6 separate regions of the Homo sapiens genome follow, and regions 1, 2, 4, 5 and 6 are each reported to be linked to region 3. Evidence: microRNA targets listed by miRTarBase, many of them from high-throughput screens and not tested one by one. Region 3 holds a microRNA gene; each other region holds the end of a gene's coding sequence. Distances are from middle to middle.
The links. Region 3 holds the annotated microRNA hsa-miR-590-3p (UAAUUUUAUGUAUAAGCUAGU, at 3,517-3,537, opposite strand). A microRNA usually pairs through its seed, bases 2 to 8, with sites in the 3' UTR of a target mRNA and lowers its output. Matches are read on the target gene's strand: a 7mer-m8 pairs with bases 2 to 8, a 7mer-A1 pairs with bases 2 to 7 and ends in A, and an 8mer does both.

Region 1 (5,073 bases), not on the chromosome of region 3:
TTGTCATTGCCATCATATGTTGGCAAGCTTGGTAACTTTCCCCTGGGGAGAGTAACTCTAGAGACTGTCATACAGGAAAGGACAGTTTAGCTCTAGGTATCTTTTCCTGCCATTCTTCTTGATTTACTGGAAGAATAAGTGGCCTATATCTGATGGCCTGCTTTCTTGTTCTGCCTCAGCTTATCTCCAGCCTCTCTGTGGGCTGTTCCTACCCTATCCTGGAATCCTCTACCAGACTGTATAAAGAGTGGTGTACCCTTCCAGCTGGGAGATGGAGGGTCACTTGGGGGGAGATTCCCATATATGCCTGTGTGGGAGGAGTGAGGACCAGGTGCCTTCTAAGGGCTTTAGCTGAAATTCTTCTGGTGAAACAGGAGTTTGAACTTGGTCGGCTTTTTCCTGTTTTTCAGCTTCCTGATGACTTGTATCTCACTTCGAAATCTGATATTAGGCCGTCCTTCCCTGGAGCAGCTGGCCCAGGAGGTGACTTATGCAAACTTGAGACCCTTTGAGGCAGTTGGAGAACTGAATCCCTCAAACACGGATTCTTCACATTCTAATCCTCCTGAGTCAAATCCTGATCCTGTCCACTCAGAGTTCTGAAGGGGGCCAGATGTTGGGTGCAGATGTAGAAGCAGCCAGTCACAGACCCATTCTATGCAATGGACATTTATTTGAAAAAAATTCTCAAAAGTTTTTTTTTTTTTTTTGGGGGGGCGGGGTTCTAAAGCTGTTTTTAACTCCGAGATTACAACTTAGAGGAACCAAGGAAATAAAGCAAATAAGATTTAACAACCCAAGATTAAGAGGCCAGGAAGAGGTTAGACGCAATGTGAAACTGTCCTCCTAGGATAAGGTTTAAAGTGGCTTTTTGGGGGCTGGGTGCCGTGGCTCACGCCTGTAATCCCAGCATTTTGGGAGGCTGAGGTGGGCAGATCACTTGAGGCCAGGAGTTCGAGACCAGCCTGGCCAACATGGCAAAACCCCTTCTCTACTAAAAATACAAAAATTAGCCAGACGTGGTGGTGGGTGCCTGTAATCCAACTACCCAGGAGGCTGAGGCATGAGAATCGCTTGGGCCCAGGAGGTGGAGGTTGCAGTGAGCCGAGATCGAGCCACTGCACTCCTGGGCAACAGAGCAAGACTTCGTCTCAAAATAAATAAATAAAGTGGCTCTTGGGGAAAAGCAATTTAATGTACCACGATGAATAGCTAACTGTTCCCAAGTGTTTGCTATGTGCAACACACCGCGTGAGCAGTGTTACCTGCATTATTACATTAGGCTGAGAGGTAAAATAATTTGCCCGAAGACATACAGCTAGTGACGAATGGACTGATGGTTTGAACTTAACGTCTATTTGACTTAAGGTCCTGCACCCTGCCACTTGTAATTTTCAGAATCACTGATAATCTGAAATAATGCAGCTTAAAACATGTTTTCTTAATTAAAAGTATAATTGGATGGTGGTCAGGTTGTAAATGCACACAAAGTAATTTATCTTCATTGCAATTTTGGTTCCTTCTTTGTTCCTATTATCTATATACACCCAGTGTTTCACTAGCAGTTATGAGAGCAGTCAGAATAGCAGCATCAAAGTTAAATAAGGAAATCTAGATGATTGCTAGATTTTCTCTAAAAATAAGCTTAGTATTTGGTATTATTCTAGCCTTTGGTGAGCAGAAGGGGAGGTAAAGTAAGAATTAACTAAATTTAGTAAGGGATTAGGGAATGCTTAGACATTTTGTAGGTTGGGGTATACAAGGGTAACTCAGGAAGCTCCTCAGTTCAGTGAAAATTCAAAGGGTTGGCACTGAGCTAGGAAGCGAGAATGCAGGGTTATGAAAAAGGATCCCTGCTTTGGGAGCTCATGGACTTGTAGCAGAGACCGGTAGTAAATTGGCAGTCTCAGTAACTTCTGTAAATGATTGCATCTCTTTGCAGGCTTCTCTTCCCATACTCTCCCCCACTCCTCCTTGGACAGTGTTCCGGGGGTTCTTTCCTAAGCAACTGCTTTTTCAGTATACATACTTCAGATGATTGTGTCTACTCCAGGATTTCCAACGATGCTAGGTTTCTTTCCTGTGCCCTAGACGTATAGGTCTAAGTTCCACCTGGATATCCCACAGGGCTATCAAGCTCAGTTCATCCTAAACAGAACTTACATTCATCCCCAACTCAGACTTCCTTATTCTTTATTATTGAATGGCAGCTCTGTACCTTAGCCAAGCTGTTATCTCTAGGTCATCAGCCTTGACTCTTCCTTTTTCCTTGCATTTCTTAAAATTGCCAAGTCCCATCAATTTTACCTCCTGGATACCTCTTGAATCTATTTTTTTTTAAAGACAGGGTTTCACTCTATCACCCAGGCTGGAGTTCAGTGGCACAATCTTGGCTTACTGCAGCCACCACCTCCTGGGTTTAAACGATTCTTCCACTTCAGCCTCCCATGTAGCTGGGACTACAGGTGCCCACCACCACGCCCAACTAATTTTTGTATTTTTAGTAGAGACATGGTTTCCCACATTGGCCAGGCTGGTCTCAAACTCATGACCTTAAGTATCCACCTGCCTTGGCCTCCCAAAGGGCTGGGATTACAGGTGTGAGCCACCGTGCCCAGCCAAATCTGTTTTCATTACTACCTATATCTGTATTTTCAACCTTTGTATTAGCATCTAGTTAGGGATAGACCAGGACAGGGCCGACATGTTAGTTGTCAAGCAGATTGCCACCCTCCCCCACCACTGAGGAGGCCAAATGGAGTTTGGTGGAAAATCTCTAATTCATTCAAGGTATTATATGGGCAAGCAATGGCTGTGGCACAGGGTCCCCTGATTACTTTGTAAGAATGGGTGGGAGGGATGCTGATTTTCAATCCTTTTGCAGATCTTCTCTCATAGTAACACAATAGAAGATACTTTGCCACTATGTTGTTTGCCAAACTCACTGTACCTACTTGACTGGTAACAAAAGTCCCAAGAGTTACTTGGGAGAAGACACTTGAAAAAGTATTTTTCTAAATATGGGCAAGGATGCTGCCCTTCCCCAAACTGTTAGTATACCACCTCTCTGACCAATTTTCCCAAGGAAGATATTGGGGTAGGGTGAGGTGTAAAGAAAAAGTGGTCATGTAAATACTGGTAATAAAAGCTGTTCAGTGGGGTAGAGTTGGGTTGCAACTGTAGCCATTCTAAAAATGGGCTATCAATGTCCTTTTAGCCAAAAGACTTTAGTATACATCCTCCTCATTCTACCCTCAGGATTTGGATCTTTGCCCCTGATGGGTATCCATCCCCTTTGAAACTTTAGAAAGGCAGGTTATATACAGAATGTTCAACCTAAAGACATTTCCTTAAGTCATACTTTCATGCTTTCTAAACTATAATCACCCTTATCATCCCCTGCTGTTATGCTTTCCCTCTGCTCCCTGTGGCCTAATGTTCCTCCACCACCTTATTAACCTTCAGGATACTTTTCCCCTAGGCTGGGCAGGACAACACTATCCCCTTGGTCCACAAGCTCCCTCAAGGTTGGGGAATCTTTGTTTACTTAGCAAATACTGAACATAACCTTAAAGCGGTTACTTTTGAAAACTTCTCATGCTATTCTACCAACTTGGAGGCACCTATCCATGCTCATTCCCCTAATGTAGCCAATATGGTTATCTGCAATGTATTGGCATCTAAAAACTCCCTTATGAAACTGCCAGACTTGTTCTGGAACATTTCAATTACATGCAAAATTCAGGTTCTCAAGTTGGAACAAGTCTAATTGACACACCTGCATAGGTTTTAACCTTGCCCTCCCCCTACTTCCCAACAGATTTCCAAGTTTTTTGAGAAGGAACCTTGCTCTGGCCCAGGCTGGAGTGCAATGGCGCCATCTCGGCTCACTGCAACCTCTGCCTCCTGGGTTCAAGTGATTCTCCAGCCTCCTGAGTAGCTGGGATTACAAGCACCTGCCACCACACCCAGCTTTTTTGTATTTTTGGTAGAGACGGGGTTTCAGTTTGCCAGGCTGGTATCAAACCGTGACCTCAGGTGATCCACCCGCATTAGCCTCCCAAAGTGCTGGGATTACAGGTGTAAGCTACCATACCCAGATTTCCACGGCTTTTTTTTTAAGTCTCACTCTGTTACCCTGGCCGGAGTGTGGTGGCACGATTTCAGCTCACTGCAAGCTCCACCTCCCGGGTTCACGCCATTCTCCTGCCTCGGCCTCCTGAGTAGCTGGGACTACAGGTGCCTGGCTAACTTTTTTATATTTTTAGTAGAGACAGGGTTTCACTGTGTTAGCCAGGATGGTCTCGTGATCTGCATGCCTTGGCCTCCCAAAGTGCTAGGATTATAGGCTCACGCCTATATTACTATATAGTGGCCTATATTACAGGCCACTCCGCCTGGCCTCCAAATTTCCAAGTTTTTAAGTCTCCATGCAAACAGGCATAAGCAAGCACTCCTTGGCTCTACATTTGCAGGACAAGCTGGACCACCATTCAGATGTTGGTAGAAATGTAATCCAAGTGGCTATTCTCTATGCATGTAGCTCCTAGGTTCAAGAGCAGTGTGGTCTGCGGATTTTCTACACAACCTGCCATAAATGAAATTTAAGCCTTTGGAAATTTATAGCATTTTCAGCTAATTTGCATTATTTATCTCTGCAAGATATTGACTAGAAATCACGTTTCAGAACTTCTCAGATGAAAACATCATACAACCCTTAAAACTAAGCTCATAATTTAAAAATGTATGCAGATTAATAGGCTTAAATTGCCAGGACTTTAGATAGACATTACCACTTCCAGGTTAATACTTTTAGCGGTTTTTATGCCTTCAATGGTTTGAAGCCCTCAACCTTAGTTGAAAACTTAAAAATGGCATTGAATGGCTGCTGCAATAAGGACACATGAATTTTGGCTTAAGTGGACTAGGAGGACTAAATCTTGCTTAGGCTTTTAAAAAATGCCCACCCACTGGGTCTAGGGATTGAGGTTATTTTCCTGAATTATGGCTAATTATGGATTACAATTCAAGGTTAAAGATACACATATAGTATTCTCAGGTTATTCATATGAT
Region 2 (5,076 bases), not on the chromosome of region 3:
TGCAGAGAAGACTGACATCACTCATATTTTATCATTTCGGTAATATCAGAAGATAACAATCAAAGGTTAGCATTAACTGTGGGTATTCTTTTATGAACAGTTTTTCAACCTGTTGGAAAACACTCAGGCCTTGTATTTTTCTAGTGTATTGGTGTCACCTCTCTTCCAGTTTTCTGAGTTTTCTACATTCTAACTCTATTCTGCCCATTTCTCGTAATTTTCTGTAATTCTCTGTGCCTAGTCACTTCCCTCTCTGCAGTATCTGTGAACCAGCTCTTGCTTGTTTCTACCACGTGGCTCTTTCCCCACTTAGAGTTATTTTCCTTACCTGCAGAAATTGGATTTATCCTAATGACTTAGCACATCCCACAGCTCAAATCTTTTTCCAGATAGTCTTTCTTGATTACTTTGGCCTACATTAATCTTTCTTCTGTTTTGAATTCTTACAGAATTTACAGCTTTCCATTTCATTATAGTCGGTCTTATGTTTGGTTTTGCTTCCTAGCTTAGTCTTTGATTGCCAGGTAGAGTTGATAGTACAAAAAAAAAATATTTTTGTATTGTCTTTTATTTCTAGTATATCAGTGAGGAAAATGAAAGTGCTCAATATATTCCTGTTGATTAAATAAATTTAATTGAAAAGTAGCTCTTTTTAAACAGTTTGATATACATTCACTGTGGCACATTTACATTTTAGATTAAGTAAAAGGAAAATAATATGTGTCTATTGCTAATAAGAACAATATAGAAGTTATGCCTTACTGGTTGTCAATAAATGTTCCCATTATAAATAACTTATGATTTTTGTTTATAAACAAGTTATAAATAACTTGTTTTGATGGATTTTTTGAATTTTACAGATTGTACAAGAATCTCCATTCCTTACAATGGATCTTTTGGAATCTTGTTTTCCTTATGTCTTGCTGAGAAATGCATACCATGCTGTCTACAAACAAAGTGTTACATCTTCTGCATAAAATTACCTACTTAATCAAGATAAGCACGCATTTTTGTTGCCTTGGTTTTACCTGTAGACTGTGGAACTATTTTACCTTAAGACCTGAAAAAGTTTTGTGGATTATAAATTTCTTTCATACGGTTGTATTTTCTGATCATTGGTTTCTTAATATGGTTGTACTACAGTATACTTGGTTGATTTAGGTTGCACATTCACTGAATTCACTGAGATTATTCCTATAATTTTAAAGTATCATTTATTTGAAAAACATACATTATCAACATGTTTTTGATATTTGATAATGAAAAAAATCTTTGCTTGTTTATTTCTGAAAAAGAACTGTATTTAGTGATTATTTTAGATAGTGATATTATAGTATTCATCTGTGTGTAAATTATTTCATATAGGGAAGAGTTCTGATCTGTACCTATGGTTCTTATTGAAAACAACATTGGATGTGCATTTCTGTGATGTTATGAATACATTTCTACTTTATTTTGAAACATTTGCCAAACTAAATACTGTAACACTGTATAACATTTAAAAATGTTAAAGAACTGCTTAGTATTAGAAGCAGATCATTTCCCAAAATTCTAAGAGCAGCAGCATATGTTGTTGCTTGTATAAAGCCTAGCGATAATTTTTAGACTAACTTCCATGGTGCCCTGTTGGCATTAGCACTACCATTGTACCCTGCTGTATAATAAACAATCTTAGACATTTATCAACTGTTGATACAAATGTTAGTCCCTAACCACTTTTTATATATGTTTTAAATTTTTGAAATTCAAGTGTACCTGCCATAACATAAAATAAACACTAGACTGTATCACACTTCGATTGATTTCTTTAAGATCCTTGGATATTCGTTCAATAATAATAAAGTTTTTGTTTAAACTTAGTTTGAAATATAAAAAATAATGGTTTAGGAATGTCTAAGTACAGCATTCGATACCAGGTCAGCTATTATATGATTTGTTTAAATGTTTTAAAAAACATTTTATTGAAAAAAATACCAAAATTAGAAAATAAAATTACACAATACTTCTTAAAAATTAAGAACTTAAAGAAAACTTGTATGCTGTCAACTTGCTCATTTTATCTGTAACCAAATAGAGTTATTTAAAAGAATAGGGAAAAAAAATTGAGTGATCATGGGACTAGTGAGAATGTTGAGAACTGCTGCATTAGTCAGTAATGAATGGGAAAGACATAAAAGGGCCTATTGCTTAATAGTTGGCATGGAGGGCAAAGCAGCTCATTTAGTTTGAAAACTAACCCAATGTTTTGCTCTTTGATTGGCATTGTTGAGGCTGTTTCTCAGCAGCTTTGTATATGAATATCATAAAGAGCTTCTGTTCACAGCTTCTTATGTATACACTGGTAACTTGTGTTAAGATAAAAGAAGGCTGCTGTGAACTCAGTTATAATGTTTTTCTTTCTTCAAACATAGAGAGTAGAATGAAATTGAAGTACTATGAGATTATGCTATTATTTTGTGTATGATTTGTCCAGCCTATATTTAAAGTAGGGAGTAGTTGTCACTATCTGTCGAAAAATTGTACTTGTTCCATAAAGATTTTTTAAAAAGGGAAATTTTAAAATGGCATAGTTCAGACCTGAAATAGTCTGATTTACACAGTGAGCAGTCAAAACTAAGATTTAATGCCGTTTGTTTTGAAATATTAGGATCTTAGAGAGGTAATAACTTTGTTGGCAGTGATCTCTGGAGAGGTAAAGTAGGAATTTGGATATGTACACTTTGGAATCATATGTGAAAGGGCATAAGGATGAAAATAAGGCATTCTCTACCACTGCTAGGCTGAGAAAAAAATCGCTCCTCATAGTCACCTGAAGTTTTTGTCCAAATTTTTTCTCATACAGCAAAGGCGGGGGAGGAGGCGTGGCAAAGGTAACTTGGAGGAAAAAGTTAAAAGTAAATTGACAACTACTATTTTTAATATCTTGTTTGTTTTATTTTCTTCTAAACTTACACAACAACATACTATTTTTGTTGTTTTCTCTACATTAATGTGATCATACCATACATACTGGCCTGTAATCTGCTTATTTCACTCAGTAGTAGAAAAAATGTCTTTAATATTCTTTTTAATACCTTTATAGATACCATAACTAATTTAACAATTTCATGGCCAGGCGTAGTGGCACACGCCTATTTCAGCACTTTGGGAGGCCAAGGCGGATGGATCACTTGAGGTCAGGAGTTCAACACCAGCCTGGCCAACATGGCAAAACCCTGACACTACTAAAAATACAAAAATTACCCAGGTATGATGGTGCACACCTATCATCCTGGCTACATGGGAGGCTGAGGTGGAAGAATTGTTTGAACCCGGAAGGAGGAGGTTGCTGTGAGCTGAGATCACACCACTGCACTCCAGCCTGGATGACAGAATGAGACTGTCTCAAAAAAAAAAAGAAAATACTCATTTGGATAGATTGGATAGATTTTTAGACAATTTCTTTTCATTATTATAAATGTATATCTATATCTTGGTAAAGTTGACCTGTTATTTTTTTAGAATAATTTTTCAGAAGTAAAATTGCTTCCTTTCTGCTGCTTTTTCATTCACTTATTTAAGCAAGTATTTTTAGATGCCTGCATGTAATGGTGAGCAAAAAGGTGACCCTTTTATAGTTGAGCTTGGATTTTAGTGATGGTATACAATAAACAAACCAGCTTCTTGAGACGGAGTTTCACTCTTGTTGCCCAGGAAATGGGCAATGGCCTGATCTCGGCTCACTGTAACCTCCGCCTCCCGGGTTCAAGCAATTCTCCCATCTCAGCCTCCTGAGTAGCTGAGATTACAGGCGCCCGCCACTACGCCCAGTTAATTTTTGGTATTTTTAGTAGAGATGGGGTTTTACCATGTTGGCCAGGCTGGTCTCGAACTCCTGACCTCAGGTGATCCACCCACCTCAGCCTCCCAAAGTGCTGGGATTACAGGCATGAGCCACCACGCCCAGCCATGAGCAAACTTCTGATGGTGACTGGAAAGTATACAGGATAATGTGGGGAGGCAGTGGTGAAACTACTTTAGAAGAAAGTGTTAGAAGAAAGTGTCATCTGTGTAAGAGAAAACATTTGAGCTGGTACGTGAAGGATTAGAAGGAACCACAAGTGGGCTGAGGGGAGGAATAATAAAGGCAAAGACCCAGAAGGCAAGCACAAACTTGGCATGTTTGAGAAGTTAGAAGTGTGTCATCTGTGTCTCTGTCATGAGGAGTGCTCAAGTTCCCTCTAGGAGCCTTATGGGCTATCTAGCTCTTTTTCTCTTCTGATCATGTGCTTGCTTGCTTTCTTCTTTGCTTATATAGCAGAGTTCACAAATTAAATCTAATGTAGGCTGGTTAATAAAGGAAATGAACATGAATTCACTGATAGGCTCTTGCATTAATGTGAAAATGTAAAGTCTGTTGTACACCATCAGGCCTTCTAAATGAAGCCCAAATTCTGTAAGGTAGTGAATTGTAACCTACTGATTAGTACATGATCCATGCCCATTCTGTTATAAGGACTTGCCTTTCTGAGACTTCACCTGTATTATTCCTAAGACTTTTGTGAATAATCCTTAAAGTAGTGACTCCTTACATCTTTCTTTCATTTCTTCTTTGTAGTCACTTGAAATGACAGCATGAACCATCATTTCATTTGAAGGCCTGAGCCTGAATTTTCAAATAGACAAAATGCTCTCTTTCTCCGAAGATTTGCCATGACCTCTGCCTTTGGGAAAAAATATTTGAGATTTTAAAATTTTTATTCTGTAGTACAAAAATTATGTTTTTCGTTAATTGGTCCTGTGGAATTGGAAGGAAATTTAATATTTATTGACTCTACTTTGGTATTATTTTCAGAGTGAGAAGTAACTTTAAGTGTATTAAAATTTCATTCATTTTTGCATGAACCAAACTTTCCCTACACATCGCTGTCCTTGACTGTCCAGAGTAAACATGTCTAACTCTGGAATGTTTCATTTCCAATAAAAGTATTCAGCCTGTCATTTTGGGCCTAAGTAAAATGGGATAAATTAGCAATCTGAAGTTAGGATCCTAGCCACAGAGGGCCATGTCTCATTTCTGGTTTAAGTGCACCCCTC
Region 3 (5,076 bases):
TCGCCTGGGCGACTACCTCCCCTGCCCCCTAAGAAGTCATCCCTGAAGCCTGAGGAAGAAACAGGACACTGAATTACTTTTCAAACTATCGTCTCCAAGCTGCTTATAGAATAATGTTCTGGGAATTGTTTGAGTTTCATTTTAAATTCTTTAGTTTGTCCACTATCTGAAGTCTCTCCAAAATAAAGTGTGTTAAAAGTGGGTCCAAATGCCAATGTGTGGAGTAATGACAGCGCTAACAGACTTCCCAAAGAAAAAGGAATCAAGATCTTAGGAGAGCAAACAAACGAGCTGTTTACATGCTCAGCTTGCATGAAAAGTAGAAAAATATTAATACCACGAAACTGTATTTTAATACGGCTTAAGCAAAACAAGAAAGCCTCAAAGCAGGTTGAACTCTATTTTCTAATAGAAATCTATACAGCTATTTTAAAAGATAAACCTGAAATTTAGAAGTATTTACAACTCAGAACACAAAAATCACAAGAAAACGCTATATGAAGACAAAATAAAAACACAAAGTCCCAATTTTCCTGTTTTGGCTGCGTTTTAGGTGTGGGCCATTCTACAAGCAAAGCACCTGTGTGGTAAACAAAGCAGTTATCCGAAATTGGCCATGCCCTACACAGAGGGGCATGAGCAGAGAGCACAGCGCCTCACCCCCACCGGCGCCTCCTGTGGGGGCAAAGCGTTCTTTCCCCATTCATTTGTGTGCCTGCTAAGTGGGCTCTTGGCAGAAGTAAACTGCATCTCATTTAGAAATGCTGAATTCCCACTGGTGTGTAGGAGGAAAGAGTATTTTCTCAATGGTCTTAAGGGGCCTTCAGGCTTGTACTTCAGTGAAAGCTAAACTTTAACTGTATAACCTACTGATGTTAAAATTTGGTAAAAAGACTGGTTCACGCCTGTAATCCCAGCACTTTGGGAGGCTGAGGTGGGAGGTGAGTATAGGAGTTCAGGACCAGACTGGGCAACACAGTGAGACTCACTCTCTACAAAAAACACAAAAATTAGCTGGGCATGGTGGCGCACGCCTGGGGTTCCAGCTACTCATGAGGCTGAGGCAGGATAATCGCTCGAACCTGGAAGGTAGAGGGTGCAGTGAGCCAAGATCGTGCCATTACACTTCAGCCTGGGTGATGAAGTGAGACTCTGTCTCAAGGAAAAAAAAAAAAAACTGGCGAAAAGAAGTTAAACCATAATTAAACAAATGAGCTTGCTGCTGTTGGTTGCGCACTCAGGGGGTGCCACTGCTACTCTCTGCGAGAGTGGTGCCAAGGCTCCAAGCTTTCAGGGAGCTTGTCTTTGAGAAGAACCCCCAGAGCCCGCAGTATGCACTATACAGTCATCCTCATTATCCACAGATCCCATATTTGCAAATCCACCCAGTCGCTAAAATTCATGTGTAATCCCAAGCTAGATACCAGCAGCATTTCTCCAGTCAGTCCTGGACCTGCACAGATGCGACGATCCCAGCTGAGGCAGAAAACGATAATGCTCTGCCTGTTTCAGTTATTAGCTGTCAAGTCTTTTCACGATGAGTGTCGGGTGTTTTGCCCTTTGGGCTTTTTCTGGTGACATCGCTGTCTGAAGTGGCCCCAGGTGCAGTGTGAAGTGCTGTCTGCTGTTCTTAAGTGCAGGCTGGCTGTCAGGTGTCTTACAGACAAAACCGGTGTGGGATGAGCTTTCTAACAGGCTGAAATGATGGCACCACAGACTACTTACTACAGCTGGCCCTGAGTTCAATGTTAACACTATTAAATGAATCAACACTAACATTAAATGAGGCGTCTTTAAAATCAAGGTCACATAGGCTGGGTGTGGTGGCTCACGCCTGTAATCCCAGCACTCTGGGAGGCAGAGGTGGGCAGATCACCTGAGGCTGGGAGTTCGAGACCAGCCTGACCAACACGGAGAGACCCCGTCTCTACTAAAAATATAAAAATTAGCTGGGTGTGGTGGTGTGCGCCTGTAATCCCAGCTACTTGGGAGGCTGAGGCAGGAGAATCGCTTGAACCCTGGAGGCGGAGATTGCAGTGAACCGAAATCATGCCACTGCACTCCAGCCTGGGCAACAGAGTGAGCCTCTGTCTCAAAAAAAAAAAAAAGAAAAAAAAAAAAGTCACATAAAGCAATGTTAGGTATGATCAGCTGACGAAAATGTTGTGATCTGTAGCACACAGGAGCAGCACCGCACGGGCTCATTCAGTGTTCTAGCAACTCCACAGAACCACCTCCAATGATAAGCGCTGACTGCATCACCTGTGGTGGGGGCCGATTTCTATTCTTTAAAGGTGGCAAGGGTTTTGGAAACCAAGGGATCTCACACCCAGTTCAGAGACTGAGTTAAATAATAAATTTTAACAAACCAAGTAATGAAAGCAAGTCTGAACAGATTTAGACCAATAAGAGCACTGCTTTAGGGGAAATACACTGGGAGGCATACAGTCGAGTATAAGGTCCTTTACAAAGTATTTTACCCACATTACACAGTTCAGTGAACAAGCCTAGTTAGTATTAAAACATTTAACTTCACGTTTCCCCCAAACTAAACTGTGAAGTGTACCTTTCCACGTGAGTACAAAGTAAATTTACACCCTTTACTATGAGATTAAATGATTTCGACCACCAATGTCTAGCGTGAAACAAATAGCTCACACCACGCTGGTGAAGCAGATGAACAAGGATCTCTCATCAAATCTGTTGGTGGGGGCCGGGCGCGGTGGCTCATGCCTGTAATCCCAGCACTTTGGGAGGCCGAGGCAGGTGGATCACGAGGTCAGGAGATCGAGACCATCCTGGCTAACATGATGAAACCCCGTCTCTGCTAAAAATACAAAAAATTAGCCGGGCGTGGTGGTGGGTGCCTGTAGTCCCAGCTACTTGGGAGGCTGAGGCAGGAGAATGGCATGAACCCAGGAGGCAGAGCTTGCAGTGAGCCGAGATCGCACCACTGCACTCCAGCCTGGGCAACAGAGCAAGACTCCGTCTCAAAAAAAACAACAACAAAAAATCTGTTGGTGGGTTTCTAGGAAGCAAACTATTCATGAGAATCTTCAGAGTTTTCTTTACAAAGCTTAGTTTAACACTGGCTATTTCTGATGATGAAATGTTTTTGCTTTCTTGGTACTTTTCTGTTGCTCTATTTTGTTTTTTACATGAGCAGGTATCATTAAAAAAAATAGCACCATCCTATTAAAAAGTAAAAAAGATCTACTCTCGCAAATAACGTATAAAGTATCAAATTAGCCATTACTCCATCGAGTGAGCCCACATAGGGTTTGAGATGTCACCAAAACACTGCAGTTCCCACCAGAACTGGTGGCGGCCAGGCCATGGCCGTGTTCACTGTGTCTCTGCTTGAGCGCCAGTGGCCAAGCTAAGCCAAGGGTAGAAAGACGTTAGTATGTGGGCAACTTCTATAACACCTGCGAATACCAAACTGGCAGGGGAAAGGCCGTTCCCTGAGCTGCTGGTTGGCTCTAAGAAGACAGCTGCTGCATGTTTCAATCAGAGACTAGCTTATACATAAAATTACAGATTGACTTCACCATACTGCACTTTTATGAATAAGCTCATTTCTGACTGGCTACAGGACTTTTAAGAACTATATTATTCAACAGGTAGTCGTCACCTGTTCAGCCAAAGCTGAGTTTTTAAAAATCTCAGACTCACAAGACAGCGTGCACCAGTCCCTCCCATACTCACCCACTACTTTACACCGGTTTTGTTTTGATGGGGGGAGGGTGCTGACGTTCTATACAGCACAGCATTGACAGCACATCCCAAGTTTGCGGGAAAGAAAACAAATTTGTTTTTCTCTTCCTACCTTTCTGGGTTACAACTGAAGTTTTTATCATGTGCATATATAAAAAATTATACTTTTGTAATTTAAAAACAGAAAGTAAAGATGATAAAAATGCTTAAAATCACCCTGCAGGGCAGAGGCCTGGCGTGTGGACTGATGCTTTGTGCTATACCACCAGCTGCTCTGCCTGGGTTGGCTAAGAAAGAGAACGGCGAAGTGCATCAGGTCCACCATCAAGGGACTGGACCTCCCCACAATCCTCCAAGAAAAAAAAGGGCCATCAGGACTACCTTTCACCATGTAAGAACCCAAACCTCTATCCTATGTTTTCCAGAAGGAACAGTACTTCTCTTGGTGCCATACACAAAACCACAGAGGAGTTTCCCTGGGCTAGAGTCTGAGAAAGACTGCTGAGCGAGCTCAAGGACCCAGGCCCGTACACATCCAAGGAGCTGCAGGCTAACAAAGGTGACCACACAAGGTGCATGGGGCTCAAGTCCTGCCCCCACAGGCTCTAACAGAGGCTTACTTGCATGCCTGGGCACCCTGCAGGAGAGTTGTATTTGTTAAAGGAACTAAATAAGTAGTCCGGCCAGGCGGGCTACTCGTAAGAAACAGAGAACAGCAGCAAGGCTCCTAGGAAAAATTAAGTGGTGATACTTTAAATACTGATACCAGAATTGAAGTCATCCCGGGAATCCCATCCACCTCTAGATTCTCGAGAGCTACCCATTCCTGAGGATACACAAAAAAGATAAAGTTGAGGTCGTGTCATTACCTTGCTGCGCAAACATGGAAAAATTCATTTGGAAGACATACAACTCAAGTGATGGAAGGTTCAATGAAATCATTTTAAGAGCTTTTGCTTCCAACAGAAAACAAAAAACGCCAGGCTTGCAGAAGCATCAGCCATTCTTTCTAGGATTTTACGCAAACTTTTAAGAGCTCACGAGAACCTATCACACCTATGAGATAATCGAGTTCTACTAGGAACGTTCACGAGTTGGAATTGGTAGGCATACTGCAAATCTTTATGATGTTCAGCTTTAGAAGAACCAATCACCTCTGTCATCTGGTCCACCTTTTCTGAATCCAAAGCCACCTTTATCTTGTTTTCTGCCTTCTGCAATGTCCACACGAAGTGACCGATCGCCCAACAGCTAATGATAAAGGGAAAATAGTGTAAGTATTGGCAAAGAAAACAATCTCAACTGCTATGACAGAGAAAACCCGAGGATACTTACTGCACCATCGTATGTCAAGGCTTC
Region 4 (5,076 bases), not on the chromosome of region 3:
TATAAAGCCTTCATTTAAGAAATTCTATAGGAGGCTGGGTGCAGTGGCTCACACCTGTAATCTCAGCACTTCGGGAGGCCAAGGTGGGCGGATCACATAAGGCCAGGAGTTCGAGACCAGCCTGACCAACATGGTGAAATGCCCTCTCTACTAACAAATACAAAAATTAGCCGGGTGTGGTGGCACATGCCATAGTCCCAGCCACTCAGGAGGCTGAGGCAGGAGAATTGCTTGAACCCAAAAGGTGGAGGTTGCAGTGAGCCGAGGTCACACCACTGCACTACAGCCTGGGTGACAGAAAGAAATTCTATAGGAAATAAAAAATAACTACTTTATGTTAAAGTATTACCTACCATGGAATTTTAAGTGAACCAATATTTAGGAACAGTCTTTTTCTGTAAGATCTGGAGTCAAAGTAACTAAAATTCAGGATTAAGGATGCATTAAAAGGTTGCATTCATCAGAGAAACTAGAGAAATACACCCCTTTTAATTTCCTTAGTGCTACATCTTCCTAGATGGCAGTCAGGGAGTGGGGTGGTAGTTTATATATATCAGCTTAAATCCTTACAACCCTTCAAGATAGAGGTAGTACTTATAATAGCTTTTCAGGAAGAAAAGGGCTCCATGAAGAAATCAAGCAACTTAACTAGGGTCAGCAATGTTGGAACTGGGATTACAGTGTAATTAAAACACTTGCTTTTCCCACACTTTACTGTTCTGGGTTAACTGTTGGGAACCTGATTTTGGTCAGCAACTTTGCCTCAATAATCCTCACTGCCTCTTAAAATTCCTTCATAATGCTAAAAGCAGTCATTGTCAGGGAGATTAGAAAGGCATTTCTGTAGGAGTTCTCATACCTATTCTAACCAGAAACTTGAGTTGCAGTGACTTCAGAATCCTCTAGTCATAACGCGCTACAGTAGGTTTTACCTGTACCTTTTTGAGACGGAGTCTCGCTCTGCTGCCCAGGCTGGAGTGCAGTGGCTCGATCTCAGCTCACTGCAGCCTCCGCCTCCCAGGTTCAAGATTCTCCTGCCTCAGCCTCCTGAGTAGCTGGGACTACAGGTGCATGCCACCACGCCCAGCTAATTTTTCGTATTTTTTTTTTTAGTGGATAACGGAATTTCATCATGTTGGCCAGGGTGGTTTCAAACTCCTGACCTCAAGTGATCTGCGCACCTCTGCCTTCCAAAGTGCTGGGATTACAGGTGTGAGCCATTGCACCTGGCCTACCTGTACCTTTTAATATAAATGTCACTCAGGTGTTCTATAAATAGGGTACCCTAAATAAGATTAGTGGAACTTCCAGACTTGTTTGCAATTTGAATAATAGTGTAGCTAAAGGATGCTCCCAAAAGTTATTTAGAGAACAGATCATGAGAATGGCTTTGTGTCCTACCTGAGGCAGTTAATATTATTATTAATGTGGCACATTAAACCACATGCAGTTAGGTTATATGGAGTTACCAGTCAGGCTCCTGTTTAAATTGCAGAACAGGAATGGCAATTATAATTCAAACTGCCATTTGATTTGGCATTGATACTGATTTGGTATCAACAGACATTTAGGAGATAGTTACCTCTTAAGGTGTGGATACCCATTCATGTTTTTGCCTTCATAAAGAAGGATGGTACAAAAAGAAAGGTATTCTTCGTTCACAGTTTTTATTTCTTCCAATTAACTTTTGTGTCTTCAAAGTTGATTTGTCTTTTAAAAAATTAATACTTCTTACTCATACAATCTACACCACCCCAAGGAAAACAAACCCAGGGAAGGGTAATTTAGGGGGCAGTTAAAATGTGCACTATAGGTTTATAACAAATGCTTTCCAGCCCATAATCCTGTACATATGCAACAAAATGGCACCTCAAGTTCATCTGAATGAAGGCCCAAATAATGCAAGCGAAGGCCATGAGAATAACAAAACAAACAGAAGCTTAGTCACTGGCTTCATTCACTTTGTATGGTAGCACAGTCTTCAAACTGTCTCACACTTGATCAAGAGTAAGCAAACACAGAGACAACATCTTGACTCAGCCATTAGTAATTATAAGTGAAACCAGAAATAATTTACCTGGGCCACAAAAAGGAATTGTTTTGTCCTGTTTTTCATTAAGTCCCTAGCACCTGAAACGTAGCAAGTTCTGATACTGGGCTTCTAAAGGCATGCAGTTTTTCACTCACATCTACTTCAAAGAATTTCTTCCACTGAAACATAGCACAATCAAGGAAAAACTTCTTCTGGAGGCAAAGGAAGAGCACAAGTATATGTTGAGGCGTAATGTATGACCAAGATGGTACACTATATATAGAAGCAGTGAATGCTGTTAAAGTGTCACTCACAAAGGGATAGTCTAACATTAACACACAACTCAACTGCACTGCTAAATATGGTTGTCTTTATTTTCTTTTTCCTTGCCCAGCCCTATCTAAACATAAAATAAAACTACAGGACTGAAATTAACAATCCATTAAAATCAGCAATAAGTTATGAAAATCATAAAGCTTTTTTTTTTTTTTAAGTAATTAAGGGTAGTTAAATTATTTAAAGTATACAAAGTCCAAACAGCCAGGGGTAAGGTCTCCAAGAGGCCTTCCCAGGGTAAGGGAGAGGGCCACAAGGGAACCTTGGAGTTTGAAAGACAAAGGGAACACATGACATCAAAGTGCAGGCTAGAAATTTCACTTAGAAGAAAATAACATTACTGAAAATATTCGTAAGAGTAACAATAGCACCTGCACAGTGGGACTGTGAGGAAGAGAGAGACTGCCTGTAGGAAAATGGAAGCAAATCTTTACATTAAAATGAGACAAGTGCTGAACTTACTATGTTAACTATGATAGTGTGTCTACTATAGATATCAGATGGTTAAAAGCTGGTAAAAGGTAATGATTCTAAAAACAAAAATAGCATTGACCCTTTTTCTACCTAGCCCAGACCTCATTCATTTTGTGCACTATAAAGAGTGAGGTGTGAGGTGTTTTATCATTATCAAATGCTGCATCAAAATAGATGATTTTTTTCCCCATGTGTTTTTCCACTATAAAAGACATCTATTTTTTTTTATGGATAAGCTTTAAAAAGATGTCATTTTGGTTTTCAACACATATAAACAGTTATCAAAATCTGAAATAAAAATGCTGCTGTGGCTCAGACCTTGGCCTGCTAATCTGCGTGCACAACTCTTCTGACCCACGCAGACAAAGAGGCACATGGAGCTTTTTCCTTTTGGCCCCCCCAATCCATACTCATAGGCCTTGTAGGATAGAGGCTGTCATGCATGGACTGCTCCCATGTGGCCTAAGGGCAGCAGGATGGAGAGGTGGCAGCTGGGTGCCTAGTGCTAACAATGCAGGATAAGGTTAGCTTGCTTAGCATGGAATCCAACAGAAAGTTGAGCTGCATGATGATCCCTTTCAAAAGGCTTCATGGGAGTCTCTCCTTTTGCAGAGCATGAAATGAGCTTTTTTCAAAAAAAAAAAATAATAATAAAGGATTGATCATCCACAGGCTTCATGATAAACTGTCCCAGGCTGAGTTTTAATAGCTCATTATTAGCTATCCAAGATTAATACCTGATTTTCTTGTCTTTTCATTCGAATAGTTTTTATTTTGCTTTTAGGACCATAAAGCTCAGGAAGGGTTCATAACCCCATCCTTAAATGTGTCTACTCAATGTAGTATGAGCAAACTAGAAAAGAGAAAGAGGATGGCATCTCCAATGTCCTCTTCTCAATCAACTCAAATCAAGAAAATTTCACACAAGTTTTCTGCTGCCATTAAAAATTGTGATTTTTCCAATATGAATATTCTGAATATTTGTTCTCCTTGGGAGGCTCTGCCCCACTTTTTGCTAAGTATTTGCTTAAATACAGGTCCTCTGACCCTTTTGTTCAAGTATAGTTTTGTTTTGTTTTGTTTTGTTTTAAAGAGGAGACTGCATCATGAACCCAATTTAAGAGATTGTTTGTATTGAATTGGCCCAGTGAATATTTTGCCCTGCACTGTTATGTCATGCTGGGTTCTATGAAGTGAATGAAAGTTTGACACTGGCACTGGAGTAACCCTCGTCACTCCCAATACTCGGCAGGCTGCTGTGGTCATCAATGTCACTGATGCTGGTGGTACTTATATTGTCCACTTCTCCATGGGAGAACTCTGTGCTTTCAACATCCACTTCAATCTCCTCTGCCAAAGGAAAAAAAAAAAAGAAGAACATTAATTATCGAGTATAGCGCACCTTCAAAAACTAACAGCATGAGGAAAAGAGGTATAAGAAATGTTACACAACAAGCTTATTATCAGTGATGTCTGGAGAACAGAGGAACAAGGTGAAGAGACAGGAATATTTTTTGCCAAGGGGAATGTCTGATATACAGTGGTGGTCTTAATTTAGGCAGCAAATTTCCTAAATCCTTTGACGCCAGTCCGTCTGGACCTCCCTAAAGCACTTGGCGTATTTGGGAATTAGTGCTTAATATTAAAAGGTCCCAACCCCCAAGTGGTTTAAAAACATCTGTTTTGCATTAAACCACAAACTAATTCTCAGTTCTGTTTATTAATCAGGGTTGCCTTAAAGGGTGGGCAGGAGCATAAACTTAATATAGGCAAACTAGAAAATTTACCCATCCAAGCCTTTGGTGGTGCCATTCTACAGATAGTTCAACAGACTTCTAGGATTCATCATAAAGATCTTCAACTAGTCAGTCAAACAAGTCATTATAAAGTAGAGTTTGAGGTATATGTCTTAGATTTAATTTTCTTGCATCAAATATAGCTTGAAATAAGGGCCTGAGACTTAAAAGTCTTCAGATTATAGTGAGATCCATTTTGGTGGTAGTATACAGACTTAAAAGCCAAACATTAAAAAAAAAAAACACCACAAATACATATTTGACTCAGCTATCAATAGATAATGTTGCTGGACGCAGTGGCTCACGTCCGTAATCCCAGCACTTTGGGAGGCTAAGGCAGGAAGATCACTTGAGTGCAGGAGTTTGAGACAAGCCTGGGTAACAAAGTGAGACCTCATTTCTACCAAAAAAAACACAACAACACAAAAATTAGCTGGG
Region 5 (5,076 bases), not on the chromosome of region 3:
CTGAATAGCTGTGTGATTTGGAACAAGTGCCTTAACATTTCTGAATCTCGATTTCCTCATCGATAAAATGGGGGCTTAAAATAGAACCGCCATCACGGGGGTGCTTTGTAAACTGTGACTTGCTCCTGAAATGCAGGGATCATCATCCGCATTGCCTCACTTGTGACCTTGCTTGCTGGCTTTCTTTGTCCCTAGCGGATGACCACCAGGCTCTCATCTGGGACATCCAGCAAATGCCCCGAGCCATTGAGGACCCTATCCTGGCCTACACAGCTGAAGGAGAGATCAACAATGTGCAGTGGGCATCAACTCAGCCCGACTGGATCGCCATCTGCTACAACAACTGCCTGGAGATACTCAGAGTGTAGTGTTGGTGGCGCTGTGCCCACGAGGCAGGGGCTTTTGTATTTCCTGCCTCTGCCCCACCCCCAAAGTAAGAAGAAACATGTTTCCAGTGGCCAGTATGTCTTTCATTGCTTTGCACCCACTGTTACCAGAAGCTGCTCTAGGAGTTCCTGGCCAGTCACCCCATCGCCCTCTGTGGCAGACTCAGTGCTGTGTGGCGCCTCCTCAGCCCAGGGCTGAGTTTTAAGATTTTCTCTCCTTTCCTCTTCTCCTTTGGTTCCTCAATTAAAAAATGTGTGTATATTTGTTTGTCAGGCGTTGTGTTGAGGAGCAGTTCACGCACTGGCTGTGTCTATTCCTCTGCCCAGGTGTCTCTGTTTGCTGCCCAAGGCAGCAGTTCATGTCTCGTCCATGTCCATGTTCGTGTTAGCACTTACGTGGGAACAAATACCAATTTGTCTTTTCTCCTAGTATCAGTGTGTTTAACAAATTTTAACTTTGTATATTTGTTATCTATCAGGCTAATTTTTTTATGAAAAGAATTTTACTCTCCTGCTTCATTTCTTTGTCTTATAGTCCTCCCTCTTTGCACCTTCTTCTCTTCCCTCAGTGCCTGGAGCTGGTACTGGGCCCCTGGCCCCATGAGCAGTTTGCCTTCTTGAGTCACTGCCTGTGTAGTACATACCTGACCGGGAGTCCAAACCACCTTGGTGCTCTGAAGTCCACTGACTCATCACACCTTTCTTAGCCTGGCTCCTCTCAAGGGCATTCTGGGCTTGTAAACAGACATAGGAAGCCTCTGTTTACCCTGAAGCACCACTGTCCAGCCCATTGGTTCCCACTGGCAGCATGGTAGAGCTGAGAGAAACAGGCTCTCAGGGTACCTGACTTGAGGGGAATCGTTTCATGAAGCTGAACTTCAAGCATATTTCCAGTACATTCTTTCAGAGTCTGTTTTTCCATCCAAATATAAGCCCCAGGCCATTCCACTTAGTGTCTTTTCAATGATAGGCAAGAATGATATCTGAGTTGAACTTCGGTGCTTCTGTTGTTTGAGTTTACTGTGCCTGGTGGTATATTGGGCATTCTTTGGATTGAGTGTTCTGAGGTGAGAGAGTCTTCCCGAGGCATCCTGTCTGTGCTTCCAACCCTGAACAAGACCTTACATGAGAGATGGACTGATGGACTGCGGCAATCCTGGGCTGTCAAGTGGATAGATAGTTAAAAAGCATTATACTGTGGGTAATGAAAAGGGAGGAAAAAAAAAGAAGGAAAAGGAATTATAGACCCCCAGGGTCAGCCAGTTAAGAGCTCTACCCACACCTGTCAACCCCTCTCTCCCCCAGTTTAGGTTCTGAGCAGTATTGGACTTGTAGCCTGCAGTTGTCTTTTGACTTGCAGGCCGCAGGTGTCTTTCTGTTATGTGAATGAGTTCCATGGAGGGGCATATGTGTGATTCCACCGTTAGATGAGCCCTTGGGGCAGGCAGTTTGGGATGTGCTCTTGGGGGAAAGTTGGCTGTTTCCTTGCGCTCTGCTCCTACCCGAAGGTTTTTAAGTCCCTCTGAATTGCTCATCTGAGATTAGTAGAGTAGCAGGCCTGAAGGATGATGGTTTTGTCCTCTTTGGTTCTCACCTGCTTGAGAAGTAAAACAGTAACTTTGTTCTTCTGGGCCCTTAAGCTTTTTTGGTTAAGTCTTCCTTTTCAGAAGTAGATGTCATTATATGCCAAAAGTCTAGCTCTTTGCTTTACCATACAGGGACCTGTCCCAAAGAAAAAGGCTCTTTTTTTAGCCAGCATATTTCCCCTTCTACCCTTTTACTTTGTTGTTCTGATTTTAGGACTCTGGCTGGCCATGTGCTTGTGGTTGCCTCTCCTGCATTTGCCACTGGATTTGCACTGCATCGTTTGGAGATACAAAGCGAGCAGTTCTTGGTCAGAACCCTCCTCTGCTTTTCATTGTGTTTGATAATGGTTACTGGGTCCTTCTCTCAAGGGTAGCAAGGCCAAGCTGATGGCTGCTTGTTTAGGAGGCCATCAGTTCCTTCCTGTGGAGAAGGGTCTGAAATGGAAGTCAGTGGTAGAAGGGGCTGGTCTGCTGGGCAGGGCTTACATCCACTGAGTTCTAAGATTCCTTTCCTGATCTGCACCTACGCCTGGTCTGTATGGTGGAATTTGTCAGCTGGAACTCAGAAACAACAACTTGAAAAAAAAATAATAATTAGAACATATTTGCATAAGATAGCTATTTACTCTGGAAACCAACAACTTTTGAGATTTCCCTTGCCCTGTGGACGCCCAGCTCCTGTCATCCTTCCTTAGGTCCTGCAGTACAGTCTTCCCCTGAATGCCACCGGGGACCCAGGGGGACTCCACCCCCCTAAGCAAGCACACACATACTCACAGTTGATGAGTTGCTGGTCTTTGAGTCCCAGCTCTCTTACCCTCCCTTTACTCCACCAGCCCGACGACCCATGACTGAGGAGGGGATTTCTACAGTCTCAGGATTTAGAAAGTCTGTAAGCCATCCATGCTCCAGAAAGCACCGATCTGTTGTAGTTGCAAAAACAACTCTGTAATTTGTTGAGGTTCTCAAACTGACAGCCAGCGAGACTGGGTGGGAGGCCCTGGATCTGTTCTCCCTGACTGCGGGAGGAGCAGCCACTAGGACTTTAGCAGGAAGCCCACATGGAGGCTCCGCCAGGCTGTGGCCCAGCTGGTGATGGCCCTTTTGCTCCTGGCAGCCTGAGGCACAGCTGCCTGTATTGTCCTCATCTGTTCTGACTGAAGGATGGAGGTGCTGAATAAATTAGGCCTCAGGCCTCTACCACCAGAGAGCTGGAGAATGGGTCCACGTCATTCAAGGACCTGAATTTTTTATGCTCAGGAGCATTGGAATCCTCTTCTTCCAGGGAGGAATTAGCCTGCAAGGTTAGGACTTGAAGAGGGAAGGTATTTAATAACTGGGCGAGGATGGGTGTGGTGGCTCACACCTGTAATCCCAGCATTTTGGGAGGCTGAGGTGGCCAGATCCCAAGGTCAGAAGATCGAGACCATCCTGGCTAACATGGTGAAACCCCATCTCTACTAAAAATACAAAAAAAAATTAGCCGGGGGTGGTGGCGGGTACCTGTAGTCCTAGCTACTTGGGAGGCTGAGGCAGGAGAATGGCGTGAACCTGGGAGGTGGAGCTTGCAGTGAGCCAAGATCGTGCCACTGCACTCCAGCCTGGGCGACAGAGCAAGACTCCGTCTCAAAAAATAAAAAAAAAAAAAAAATAGGTGAAAATTCCTTATAAATCCAGGATTGGCTCTGAGAGAACTGGCTAAGATTCAGGAAGAAACAAAAAATTCAGAATCCTACAAGGTTTTGATGACAATTAGGGCCAAAATTTTAGGAGGAGATGTAGGATGCAGGAGAAAATTAAAGTGTTTTCTTTATATCAGAGGAGGAAATAGTAGAGGTCAGTGAAGGTCTGGGGTAGGGAAACATTCAGACTGTCCATTGCATGGCTGTGGAGTGAGACTGCCCTTAGCCTGGGTCAGCCTTCCTGGGCCATAAATTGGGCATCCGTGATGCTAGGTAACTGTGGGAACAAAATGACAGCTTAGAGCAGCCATGGGTGATGTTTGGTGGTAAAAAACCTACAGGCGTTTGGGGTCCCATGATTGTTCCAGACCATGACTCTTCCTGGTTGTGGGTTTGTTACAGAGCAGGAGAAGCAGAGGTTATGACAGTTATGCAGACTTTCCCCCTCCTTTTTCTCTTTTCTCTTCCCCTTGCTTTTCCACTGTTTCTTCCTGCTGCCACCTGGGCCTTGAATTCCTGGGCTGTGAAGACATGTAGCAGCTGCAGGGTTTACCACACGTGGGAGGGCAGCCCAGTACTGTCCCTCTGCCTTCCCCACTTTGAGAATATGGCAGCCCCTTTCATTCCTGGCTTGGGGTAGGGGAGACCATTGAAGTAGAAGCCTCAAAGCAGACTTTTCCCTTTACTGTGTGTACTCCAGGACGAAGAAGGAAGATCATGCTTGATACTTAGATTGGTTTTCCCAGGGAAGAGGGCGGAGCAGAGCAAAGTCACTGTGAACCCTGGGCCAGGCCCTGGCTGGGCCAGCTCCTGAGAGCGTCTCGTGTTGCAGACCCTTGCCCACTTCACCCACCTGCACCTTCTCCCCCTCTCACAGTGTCACTGCTGCTAATGGTCAAAGTCAAATGTGTGGCCACATGGGATGGGCCAGGTCCTCTCAGGCTACTTTCTGGATGTCATTTTTAAAATATGGAAACATGCAGGTGCCTTCCCAAAGAGGCTTGGACTGGTATATCCAACGAGAAACAAATAAGCTAAAGAAAGTTTAAACTCAAGAAGAAAGATGTTGACAGTCTATGTAACAGCTGGAAAGTTTATAGGCACCCACCTTTGGGACAACCCAGTGATTATGAACATGTGATATCTACTATTTAAAAGAAATGTTCTCACCTTGGGTTGATTGTGGTATACCATGTGTTATGAAAATTGTTGAGCTGAAGCTTTGAATCGATTTAGTTGAGTCTGACTCACTTGCTTTGGTTCCTGTGTATTTTACTACCCCTCTTGTCAGTGACCTTCCTTCCCCACCCCACCCAGAGTGAATTTGTAGCATGATTGTATAAACCTCTATGTAGAAAATGGAGATTTCTTGCTCTGAAATGTTAAGCTCTAACTGATCCATTTCTGTGTCCTTTAGCCTAG
Region 6 (5,076 bases), 11 Mb from region 3:
ACATTTATCTCAATCCACTAAAACCTAAATTAAATCACAATAAAGCTTAGCAATATAATGGTATCAAATTGGGTGGGACACATTCTTTTCTTTCATAAATGAAATTACTGCATACTTACAGTGTAAAATACATCTACTGAACATTTCAGAAAATATTGCATCTTATATTTTCTTTAGTCCTATTTTATATATAAAATTTACTGTATTTGGGGTTTGAAAACAAAATTTGCACACAAACCAGTAGTTTTTATAATCATAGAACAGTCATGTTTGCATTTTATTATAATACAACCAAAATATACATTTAACAATTTTTAATTATTTCATACTACAAGACTACATTTCTTTTAAAATAGCAGAATTATAAATTCAAAATTGATTGCTAACCACTCACAATACCAGAATTAAATTACATGATTAACTAGGGCATCTGACACATTTTGCCCTTTCCCAAAAATCATCTATCTCAAACCCTTTCCATAAATACTTTATACTATAAAATATTTAAATGAGAGGTATAAGTCATGTGTATGATCCTGTCTTTGCACTCCTAATGTATGGAATCTGGGAATCGATTTTATTTTACCTGACTTGTAAGATGAATTATTTAAAATTGTGATCATTTACTATGATAAAAATACATCTCCTATAAAAACACTTCAAATATCTTTTTTTTTTTTTGGTTTGTTTCTAAATTATCCATTCCCAATAAGGTTAACCAATTCCAAAATGTTTTCTAAGAAAAATGTGACATTCTAAAGGGAGGCTATTTCAGTTTTGATTTCCATTTGTATTATATAAATAAATATGAAATACAACATTTAAGTTTAAGAAAATCAGTATTTAATGAATGCTCTTATTATTTTTTGGACAGCTGAATGATATCAAGTTGTTCTTGGAAATTCAATTATGATAATGAAAACAAGTGACTACTAATAACTTATTGTTTAGCTGAGTCTGTAAAATTCAGCAGGAACAAAACATACTAGAATATGAAGAACCAAAATATGAACCAAAAGCAAAATTCAAGAGTAAGACCATTTTGTAGCCAGCATATTGTAAAGAGCATTATTTTAGCCAACAGAATGATGAGACTTTATGAATTTTAATTCTTCCACTACTGTTGTGGCTTTTGCAAATTACTAAATTTCTCTGTGACTACTTTTCCATTTCTTAAGTAATTTGGTTGGTTTCCAAAAGTCAATAATGTGGATGTAGTGTTTTGAGCTCTTTGGAAAAAAGGACTCTACATAAATTAATTAGACAATTCATTTCTAAATAAAATCTCAAAATTTACAATAAGTTGAATGTAAATGAATGCAGACATGCGGGATTCTATTTAGCAGCATAAATTGCTGAAATGAAATTCAGAAAAGAACACACAAGGCAGACAAAGACAAAAGTATTAGAGACAAGAAAAATACGAAAACATGAGTAAACAGGCATTTTAAGATCCCCTCCGCAGAGTCAATTTCTTAGCATATTTGAAACCATTAACTATACTTTTCTTTTTCATTATTTTAAGGCAAATTTGATAAAATAGTCAGTGGTGAGGAAGTATATAGTGTGTTTGTGGATTTAATATATTCATACTCTTTCTCTAAATGTTCTAGACAACTAAAAAGCTAAGAAAAAAACACATTTTAGATATTCTTTATCTTTAAAAATACATATAAATATGTGTACTCTATGTTGTTTTTTATTGTGTGAAATTTTATTTTACTAATAATATTTTTAATATATTTTAACTAATTATCATAAATCAAGAGTATTGTATCCAAAGCAGCCAGAATATTAGATGTGGTCATAAAATAAGTTTCCAAATTTTGTCTGAATAACTAGGATTAGAAAGAAGTAACTAAAAAATGGTTTGGACATTCAAATTTGGATAGAAATAAAATTTATTTTCATAAGTCAATCCTAACACTTGAGCTTCATGTAAATTTTCCAAAGTCATTCATATTTTGATCATTACTGTCGGACCCACAAATATTTGGAAATTTTTTTTAAATTAAAAATGTTCCCACTTAATTGCTTTGAGCTCGCTATGAGTTCCTGGAATATTTTGTCCAAGCAAATCTATAATTACAAACACTGTTGTTACGCTATTCAATTAGAAGTCTGATCATGCCACACTGTTCTTCTGAATTACTTTTTAAATGAGTGATTTGTTCTGGTTCACTTTTATTAAAATTATTCCTTAGCTGTTCCTTATAGTGAAACACCTACAAATATTCATCAGTATAATATCAAAAGGGAGTACTCAATCTCATATATCAGTTTGACTACTTTGAGATAGGTAAGCAATGCAAATAAAATAAAAATAACAGAGAGAGAATGCTCTCAACATAGAGCCACAGATCTTGCATTAAGTTGCCCTCTAATCACAGGGTTTTCTCACAGACTTTTCTTTCAAGATATGTAGAATGCATGAGAAACGAGCAATGTCTGTTATTTTCTGAAAAGCTGCCTTCCATGTGAGGAAGTGACTAATTTTTCATTTCACACTATAAAGGGCGTGAAAAGGCAAAACAGAAGAAGGCTAAGGGTTCTGTGTTACAAGAAGGAAAGGTGAGTTCTGCTTAAACAGACAGGAAACACACCATGCATATTCAGAGGGAAAGTCAAATTGAAAACATTTGAAAGTACTAACAAAATATGAAAGATGTTTATGTTAATATTGTGAGTTTGGTTCTTTTTACATGTAGCAGGCTTATTTATTGTTAAATTACAAAAACAATACTACAATTACAACAGATTAACTCAGCAATGAGAAAAGGTTGAGTGAAGATGTCAAAGAGTTAATTTAACCCTTTCCGTTGTTAAAATTTTACACTCGTTCTGTTATTCAACAAATATATATCCCCACTCCCCAGAAATGTCATTTTCTTAATTCTCTGTGTGTTATATATTGTTTTCTCCTATTCACTCAAATATAATCACAAAATCCAATATACAGGAGAGAATAAAGGCAGTAAAAAGAAATAATATACAGAGTATGATAAATATTTTTTAAAAGAGAGAAAATATATACTGAAATATCATTGGTTATAAATAAAATGTCTACTCTTCCTATGATTCTTCAGAAGAATTTATGTTTCCTCAGATTTTGCTAGCAGTTTGTTATAATCTAGATTTTTTTTAACAGATGAATTACAAATTGGCAGCTACTTATACCCTAGTGAAAAGAGCTCCATTACATTACTCTCACTTTATTTGTGATTGTTCTTCCTTTTCATGGGGATATGAGTTTTCCCCAAAGCCAGAATTTATGGCTGTCTTTCCTTCTGTCTTCTAACAAATCCCATCTGCATGCCTTCCCATCAGGATGCATTATACATCATTATGTTTTCCTTGTTTTATTAAAATATTTTCCCATATCTTATTAAAGTATTTATTAAGCATTCTGTCCCTGTAGAGCTTAGTATATACTCTAAAAAACACATAACTAAGCACCAACTTCTCTCTGTGAACCTGTTACTCCTGACTAGTCAATAGAAATCCTGGGGGAAACATTAGTGCCCTTCAGTAAATCAATGTTGTAGTACACTAAATTTAACCCCAGTGGCCAGAAAGAAATAATGCACCTCTCCAAATTCCTATACCATTCTCCAGGAGTGAATGGCTCACTGAGAAAGTTCCTGTTGATAATGGGAGTTGTCTTAATTTGTGTCTGACCTCTTATTCCCTACCACAAGGTAGCTGGTTCTCAATAGGAATGATATATCTGTTCATAAGAACATAGCACAACTGCATGGTAAATTCCATGCTTAATGGACATTCGAGGGAATAAAGCACCTTATACACTATCAAATTCGGGGCTTGCTTAGCTCAACTATTTACATGACAATAAATTCCAAAACTCAAAACATAAAACATTTACAACTGTAAACCCCCTATTTTTAGGATAATTCTTATACTTTGCTTGTGCAAGATTTGTTCTTGGAAAACTGGTTCAAATGAATTTTTTGCCCTTTCTTATATTCATCACATATTGTCTTATTCAGATTATTGTCTTGTGCCTTAGCAAAACTCCATGGGAAGCATTTATGAATTACTATAAGGGATATACAAAACAGAAGGCAATGTTTTTATAGGTAAGGAATTCTTTTCTTTAAATTAAGTAGAAAACTACGTGGCTACAGCTCTAGGGAGCTCATCCAGGTCTCTGTGATGTCTTCGATTTCGTTTCTTCTTCATTTCCTGCATGTGCTTCCACTTTGGGCCCCCCTTGTTTCTCTGTCTCCGCTTCTCCCTGTGCCACATCTGTTCGCAGTACTGGTCGAGGCTGAAGTTTGGGCTGCTAAGGATTTGGATGTAGTCTTTGTATCTCAACCGTGACTCAGCCAATAGATCCTTGACCTTCCCCTCCTCATGCTCTGCCCTCTGGGTATTTTCCATCTGTTCATTCTCAATGACATTCAAAGTCAGCTTCACTATGGTGTGGATGAAAGTGTGCTCCTGGGCTTTGCAGTAATACATCCCAGAATCCTTCTTCTGCAAACTTCGAATCAGTAGCCCATATTCCGTTTTGATGATTCTTTCATCGGGCTTCAACTGCAGAATTGGAAAAATGTAGGTAATAAATTAAACACAGAGAGAGCTAAGAGCAAATGAAAACAGGCTACATAGTTTTACTTAGATGAATATGAAAGACATATTCATTGTCTCTCTGTCTCTGTCATCAAGCATAATATTGTCAGCCATAGTTAAAAAGAGTAAAAAAATTCAACAAAAGTAATAGCCCCCAAACTATATCCTTAATTTTTCACATTTGAATCTTAGTAAGTCTAACTGAACCTTTGGAATGCAGTTATTTTTTTTCTCTCAATATGCAGATAGGAATGAAAAACTGTGAAAAGTAATGAAAAACTGGAAACCATCAAGTGGCCTTCTTTACAGAGATTTCATATACAAATTACTGTATCAAGATCATAAATTAGCACCTGAAATGTGGAGCAAGAATGCAACATTTACAATTGTATAGAACACATTGTATAGAAAACGAGCTTCAGTACATGCTACTACCTATAATGTAGAATAGAACAATAATTCCAAGTGGAATTTACTGCTTTC

Region 1: miRTarBase lists GGCX as a target of hsa-miR-590-3p. Seed matches in the 3' UTR shown: 7mer-A1 at 1,006-1,012 and 7mer-m8 at 2,280-2,286.
Region 2: miRTarBase lists NCKAP1 as a target of hsa-miR-590-3p. Seed matches in the 3' UTR shown: 7mer-A1 at 1,976-1,982, 8mer at 1,988-1,995, 7mer-A1 at 2,010-2,016, 7mer-A1 at 3,236-3,242, 7mer-m8 at 3,518-3,524, 7mer-m8 at 4,729-4,735 and 2 more.
Region 4: miRTarBase lists MXI1 as a target of hsa-miR-590-3p. The part of its 3' UTR that is shown has no 7-base or 8-base seed match.
Region 5: miRTarBase lists DCAF7 as a target of hsa-miR-590-3p. Seed matches in the 3' UTR shown: 7mer-A1 at 3,448-3,454 and 7mer-A1 at 3,765-3,771.
Region 6: the mRNA of SEMA3D is a reported target of hsa-miR-590-3p. Seed matches in the 3' UTR shown: 7mer-m8 at 2,827-2,833, 7mer-A1 at 2,491-2,497, 7mer-m8 at 1,711-1,717 and 7mer-m8 at 1,102-1,108.

Annotation. Positions count from the first base shown.
Region 1 is chr2:85,545,464-85,550,536 of GRCh38, reverse strand. It overlaps GGCX (gamma-glutamyl carboxylase), which reads left to right. Exons shown (of 15, transcript NM_000821.7): 15 at 411-5,073. The coding sequence ends at 603. Among named protein-coding and RNA genes, the nearest start is that of MAT2A, 8.8 kb to the right of the region's middle.
Region 2 is chr2:182,921,603-182,926,678 of GRCh38, reverse strand. It overlaps NCKAP1 (NCK associated protein 1), which reads left to right. Exons shown (of 31, transcript NM_013436.5): 31 at 861-5,076. The coding sequence ends at 977. Among named protein-coding and RNA genes, the nearest start is that of FRZB, 58 kb to the right of the region's middle.
Region 3 is chr7:74,189,714-74,194,789 of GRCh38, reverse strand. MIR590 (microRNA 590) reads right to left here and starts at 3,592; the gene lies at 3,496-3,592. It overlaps EIF4H (eukaryotic translation initiation factor 4H), which reads right to left. Exons shown (of 7, transcript NM_022170.2): 3 at 5,053-5,076; 4 at 4,872-4,968; 5 at 4,484-4,543; 6 at 1-49.
Region 4 is chr10:110,283,940-110,289,015 of GRCh38, reverse strand. It overlaps MXI1 (MAX interactor 1, dimerization protein), which reads right to left. Exons shown (of 6, transcript NM_130439.3): 6 at 1,651-4,192. The coding sequence ends at 4,029. Among named protein-coding and RNA genes, the nearest start is that of SMNDC1, 18 kb to the left of the region's middle. RefSeq lists an enhancer at 3,130-3,631.
Region 5 is chr17:63,588,805-63,593,880 of GRCh38, forward strand. It overlaps DCAF7 (DDB1 and CUL4 associated factor 7), which reads left to right. Exons shown (of 7, transcript NM_005828.5): 7 at 196-5,076. The coding sequence ends at 368. Among named protein-coding and RNA genes, the nearest start is that of TACO1, 9.6 kb to the right of the region's middle.
Region 6 is chr7:84,995,309-85,000,384 of GRCh38, forward strand. SEMA3D (semaphorin 3D) reads right to left here. Exons shown (of 19, transcript NM_001384900.1): 19 at 245-4,557. The coding sequence ends at 4,132. Among named protein-coding and RNA genes, the nearest start is that of SEMA3D, 190 kb to the right of the region's middle. RefSeq lists an enhancer at 4,139-5,076.